Linked DNA regions of Homo sapiens: region 1 is linked to region 2. The links come from fine-mapping of genetic effects on gene expression. A gene starts in region 2. The other region holds a variant in brackets. All regions are shown on one strand. Distances are from middle to middle.

What was found.
Region 1: its variant is fine-mapped to the expression of RAP1GAP2 in tibial artery (GTEx, PIP 0.97).

The regions. Positions count from the first base shown.
Region 1 is chr17:2,852,174-2,855,063 of GRCh38, forward strand. All of the region lies in intron 2 of RAP1GAP2 (RAP1 GTPase activating protein 2), which reads left to right. Among named protein-coding and RNA genes, the nearest start is that of RAP1GAP2, 57 kb to the left of the region's middle. The variant G/A (reference allele first, on the strand shown) is at 1,389.
Region 2 is chr17:2,795,077-2,797,966 of GRCh38, forward strand. RAP1GAP2 (RAP1 GTPase activating protein 2) reads left to right here and starts at 1,362. Exons shown (of 25, transcript NM_015085.5): 1 at 1,362-1,495. The coding sequence starts at 1,452.

The DNA of each region.
Region 1 (2,890 bases), 57 kb after region 2:
TCTTTTTCCAGACCAATTCTTAAGTCACTACTGGCATAGTACTTGCAGCCTGCCTAACCGCCAATCTCAGGAGTGGGGCCCGGGTCATTCAAATCTCTAGCTATAAAAAGATGTCCATGGCTATCTATATCTCTGATCCCCCACAACCCCGGCAGGGAGGGGGTGGGGGTGGGGGTGGGGGGCACAAGGCCAGTGGTAACGGCTGCTTCATAAATAGACCAGGTGCATTTAAGAACCACCCTGGGGCTTCCTCCCCTCCACCCCAACTCCAGTGCCAGCAGGAAGCTGTGGGCATTGGAGAGGCAGGGCTGAAGCCTCAGGCCCTCGAATTCGTTTGCAGTCCCTCTCCCCTCTCCACCCAGCATGGTCCCCTCCCTGCCTGGATTTTCTGTGTTTGCTTGAACACCAGACTATTAAAAACAAAACAAAAAACAAAACAACAACAAAAAACAAGGCAAATTGCCTCAGGGGGAACCTCTTCGGCCCCAAAGATGGACTAATTGGCTTGTTCTAATTCCTTTCAGCCCCCTGCCCACTTCCTTTTCCCTAGAGGGGCAAAGCTGTGAGTGATGCTTCGGAGGGGTGAGGCGGGAGGGGGCTGGGAGGCTGGGCAGCACCTGGAAGTGGATGAGGGCGATTGTGAGCGAGGCCCCGCGCCGATGGTAGGGACCAGGCCACAGCCCTTTCCCCAGGAGCCGGCGCGACCTTCCGACCTTCCGACCTTCCGCCCTTCCTTTCCGAAGGAGATGAGGCTCGCGCGCGGCTGGCAGGGGCGGGAGGGACCACGCGACGAGTGCGCAGCGGCCAGGCCCGGGTGGGCGCGGGGAGGGCGGAGTGGGGGGCGCCCGGCCCGCCAGGAGGAAGCGGGGTCGCCGTGAAGTTGGTTATTGAACCCATGTGGAGTCAAACTCCCAGGGCCGGGAGAGCCAGTGTTCGCGGGGAGCCGACCCCAGCCCACTCTGCATCCCAGCTCGGCGATCCTTGCGCCGACTCTGCGGGGAGGCGGGGGCAGAATTCCGCCTCGTTCCTCCCATCCGCAAGCTCCCACCCGGGGACCCGGGCCCGGGAGCTGCGAGCCGGGGCGGGCGCCGGGCTCAGGTGCCCCCTGTAAGCGCTGGGCGGCCGGGAGGGGACGGGGACCGCGCGCGGGCAGTTTCGTTTGGACGGAGGAGGACGCGCGTTTCCTCTTGGTGCCTGTTTTCTCTCCCTCTGTTTTAAAAGCAGTGACAGCATCGGGGAAGTATCCGGGGCCGGGCCGGGGAGGGCGGCAGCCGCCTCTGCCTGGGGAGGGAGCTCGGGGCCGCCGGCGGGAGTGCGGGCGGGGACCAGAAGGAGCGGGCGAGGGGAGGCAGGGCCGGGGCCGGGGAGGGCGCCTGGGAGCCGGGCAG[G/A]GGGGTCCCGGGAGCGCTGTCCGCCTCCTCCTGCGCTTCGCCCGCTCCCTGTGCCCCGCGTCCTCCACCATCCGGGCGGCCGAGGCCGGGGCGCGGGAGGCGGGGCCGGGGCGGGTCCCGGCGCGGGCGGCGCGTCTGAGCGGGAGCCGGGAGCCGCCGGCCCGGGCCGCGCCCCGAGCGAGCCTCGGAAATGCCCGCGCCGGGGGAGCGGACGGCGGCTGCCCCGCGGGCCCCGAGGAGACGCTGAAGGTCGCCGGGAGGGAGGGGAGAGCGCGCGGTCACCTGACCCCCGGGGCGCACCTAGGCGGGGCGGGGCCCATGCGAGGCGGAGGCCGGGGGCCGGGGCGCGGGCTCAGGGGCCGGGTGCGGAGCGCGCGGAGCCGGGGCTGCGGGGACGCGGGCGGGCGAGGTCGGGCACCGCGGGCGGCCTCGCCATGTCCCAGCCCGCGGGGAGGAGGCATTGCCGAAAGGCGGGGATCCGCGCCGCCGTGGTGCTCATCGGACTCCTGCACAAATCCCGGAGGCAGAATAAAGAGAAAAGGTAAACCCCTGCAGCGCCGGCCGCTTCCCTCCGCTCTCCTGCTGCATGCCAGTTTTCTTTGGGGTGGACTTTTCCGATGGGTGTTTGGTTCCGTGTTGGTTAGAAAAAAGCCTCCTCTCCAGGTACCGTCGTGCGAACCGAGTTCGGAGCTTCGCCCCGGACCCTGGCTGGTGCGAGGAGCCTGGGCAGGACCTTGGCGGAATCGGAGGGCCGCTGGGAGGGCGCATCGGGGTGGATCCCTGACGGAGGGACCCCAAGTCCGTCGCCCCCAGACCCTTTGCAGACCGCGACCCCGTTCCCCAAGCCTGCAGCCGCGGATGCCATTGATCCAGCCCAGGCGGCTCCATGCGCCGGTGTTGCCATTTGCTTCCTGCAACTTGGCTGAGCCCTCGAGGTGCCTGCCTGGCCGAGATCCGCTTGCTCTGCGCTCGGTGCCGGCAGGCGAGGAGCAAGTTTGGAGGTTGTTCGCTCCCCACCCACCCTCTCGCCCCACCGCCATAGGGTGACTTTGCCTCTTCGCCTTTCTGGCGTTTGTTCTTTCGTTTGCTCCTGGATATTGAAAATAGTTTTCTTTAGCTATTTCAGAGACATTTTGGACGACCTGTGTGGTGGGAGGTGTGGGGTTTGGAGTAGGCAAAGGAGGTTCTGAGGAAGCTTTCTAGGCTGCAACCGCAGCTGCAGGTCTGACATCCACCAGACCCCAAGGAGCTACCAGGCAGGTCGTTGGCACAAAGCCTCCCTGTTCTGCTAGGGTGCATGGCAGAGCCTCCAGCAATGGGGGGAGGGGAGTGCGGAAGCTGACTGCCCACAGAGATGTTGCCGGGATCAGGATTTGGGGTAGCTTCCAGTGACCCTGCTGGATCCTAGTTTCCAGAGGAGTTTTGGAATGGTTAATACCGCACCCTATAAGACACGGGCAGTGGAACCAGAGACACCTGGGGGTGACCAGCAGCCCCTGGAT
Region 2 (2,890 bases):
CATGTTGGCCAGGCTGGTCTCGAACTCCTGACCTCAGGTGATCCACCCGCGTTGGCCTCCCAAAGTGCTGGGATTACAGGTGTGAGCCGCCACACCCGGCCTTTCTTCTTCTTCTTTTTTTTTTTTTGAGACGTTTTCTTCCCTTTCTCCACTGCTTGGGGGTAGGGTGGGGCCTGGGGCCCTATCTGTGCCCACTCCCCCCAGTGTCTGTTGTAGTGTACGTGCCACATCCCTTTGAGGGGCTGCCATTAGTAAGTGCCTGCTGTGTACCAGGTGTGGTCAGCACCAGTGCGTGCAGAGATGAGCACTGGCCCTGTGGTGTGCAGACTGGGATGCGTGCAGGACACGCTAGCCCTGTGGCATGAGGACCAGCACCTGAGCATGCAGAGATGAGGACGAACCCTGCGGTTCAGCTGGGAAGACAAATCCACCCGCACATGGGTACCGCCCCCCCACCCCACACAGCCAGCGTGAAGCATGCCACTGCTCTGACCTCTGTCTAGACACTTGGCGGCGGGGGTGGGGGGCGGCTGACAGGTACAGCTCTGTGCCCATGTGTGTGTACATGCGAATGCCCCTTGCAGTGTGATGTGGTCTGAGTATGTGGATGAGTGCCTGCGGGCACATGTGTATGCGTTCATGTCTGTGCACGTGTCCAATGGGGCTTTGTCAGTATGTGAGAAGCGTGTGCAGGTGTGTCTACTGATGCCTGTGTGAAGTGGTGTGTGGATGTGCACGGGAGCGTGTGTGCCGCGCTGTGCTCAGGTGTGTACAGGTGTCTAATGATACGTATGTCTGCGTGCATGTATCTGTGTGTACCTGGGTATCCTGGGCGTGTGTGTGTCCATGTGTGCATCCCACGTGCCCCTGTGCCCATGCGTGTGCATGTATACTTACATCCACGTGTGCTAGTGGAATGACATGTGTGTGGCTGGTTCCTCTGGCGTGTGCCGAGCCATGGTGGGGCAGGCAGGCAAAGGTCCCTGTCTCAGGCAGCCCTCGGGAGTGGGTGTGAAGGTCCCCAGTGCTCAGGCGTCCCTGAGGCTTCCAGCTGAATCTTTCTGTCCCTCCTAGGCGTGGCTGTGGGAATCCTTGGGGCGCCTTTGGGTTCCAGGAAGCTGGGGCTGTGTGGGCCGGGCTGCTAACTGGGGCTGTGGAGCAATCTGCCAGCCGAGCCCCTTCCGGAGCTGTGGGTTCCTCTGGGTGTGGGGAAGCTGCCCTCCACAACCTCCTCGGCCTATCTTGGTGCCTCCTGGAGTGCAGGACACACCTCCCAGCTCTGCAGCCTCACCCACAGGAAGCTCGGGTTGGGGGCAGGCGAAGAGGGAGGTGCCACGCTGGGCTCCCCGCCCTGCACCGGCACTGACCCCGCTGTACCACGGCCCTCTTGCGGACAGCCCCGGGGACGTCGTTGGGACATCGCTGGGACCCCGGGCTCTGCAGCCACAACCATGTTTGGCCGGAAGCGCAGTGTCTCCTTTGGGGGCTTCGGATGGTGGGTGACAGGTGGGAGGGTGGGGGAATGATGGGAGAGAACTTAGAAGTGAAGTCTTGTTAAGTGCATTGGCGGCCGTGGGAACAGAGGGGCTCGGGCTGTGCCTGAGAGCTGGGTCTGCTGACGCCCTGGCAGGTCGAGATGCAGGATCCTGGTGGGGACATCAGAGACCGTAAGCCTTCCCCACTGTCCCTGGGCACAATCTGCTGGCGAATCCTGGAGGTCTGCGCCGGCTGCCCGTGGGGAGGTGGATAGCATGAGTGTGACTGCAGTTGAATGTGTGTGTCTCTGTGTCCGCAGGTTCCCATGTATGTGTGTGCGTGTCTGGGATTATGTGTAAGTGTGTGTGTGCGCGTTTGAGCCTGTGTGTGCAGGCGTGTGTGTGTGGCTGTGACTGCCAGTCCGTGTGACCGTGTGTGAGGTGTGTGCCTGTGCATGTGGGCAGCTGCCTGTCTGCACTTCTGGCCTTCTGTGTCTGTGTGTGCTTGTGTCTGCGTGTTTGTGTGTGTGATGCTCCTGTCTGTGCTGTTGTTGTGGCCTTGTGGCAGGGGAGTCTGTACCTGCTGGACCTCTGGGCTGCCTGCTGTCTTGGGGGTGGGTTGTGAGAGAAGGTCTCCCACCTGCACCCCAGGCAGCCCACCCTAGCTCTGTCCTAGCCTGAGCAGCTGCATCTGTCCCCAGCCTCCTGCCTGGCCCTCTGGACACTCTTGCCTCTAAGCTTCTGTCTGGGATGAGGGATGTGCTTTTTCTTCCCGGCGGGGGGCAGAAGGTAGGCACACGAAGGCCAAAGGCTTGTCTCTGGTTCCCAGTGCTGGCAGCTTCTTCGCAGCTGGGGAACAGAGTCTGGTGGTTTTCATGATCGGTTTCCTTTCAGTGCCTGGGCTGGGGGCGTTGTCAGACTGGGAGAGGGCCCCGCGGGAGGTGGCCGGGGGGTGTCCCGGTGTGGAAAATGGTGGACTAATGGGGGTGGCACGAAGGGCGAGGGGGAGAGGGGCTGTGTTCCTCGGTAATTTTTCGCTTCCGTGTGTGTGGCTTATTTCCCTCTTCCTCCTCTTCAAAAGCACTTTGCCATCCATCCTCTGGCAGGGGGGGACTGTGGGCACTCCATGTTTGGCAGATGGGATGGTGCGGATGAGAAGATGGCACAGCGTCGCCTGTGTCTGCTCTCGGGCCCTCCCTGACGCCTGGATCTGGGAGCTGCCACCCCGAGGGTAGGTGCCAGTGTCCGGGAGGCAGCAGAGGACTTGGCTTCTGGTTGGGAGGGGTGTGTGTGTCTTGGCTGTGGGCCTTGCAGGGCAGGGCCCAGCAATTAGATTGTGCCCTCCAAGGCCCGCCTTTCTCTGGGAGGTGTGGAGCAGATGGAAGGCTGGTCGCCAGAAAGCTCCGGGTGCACAG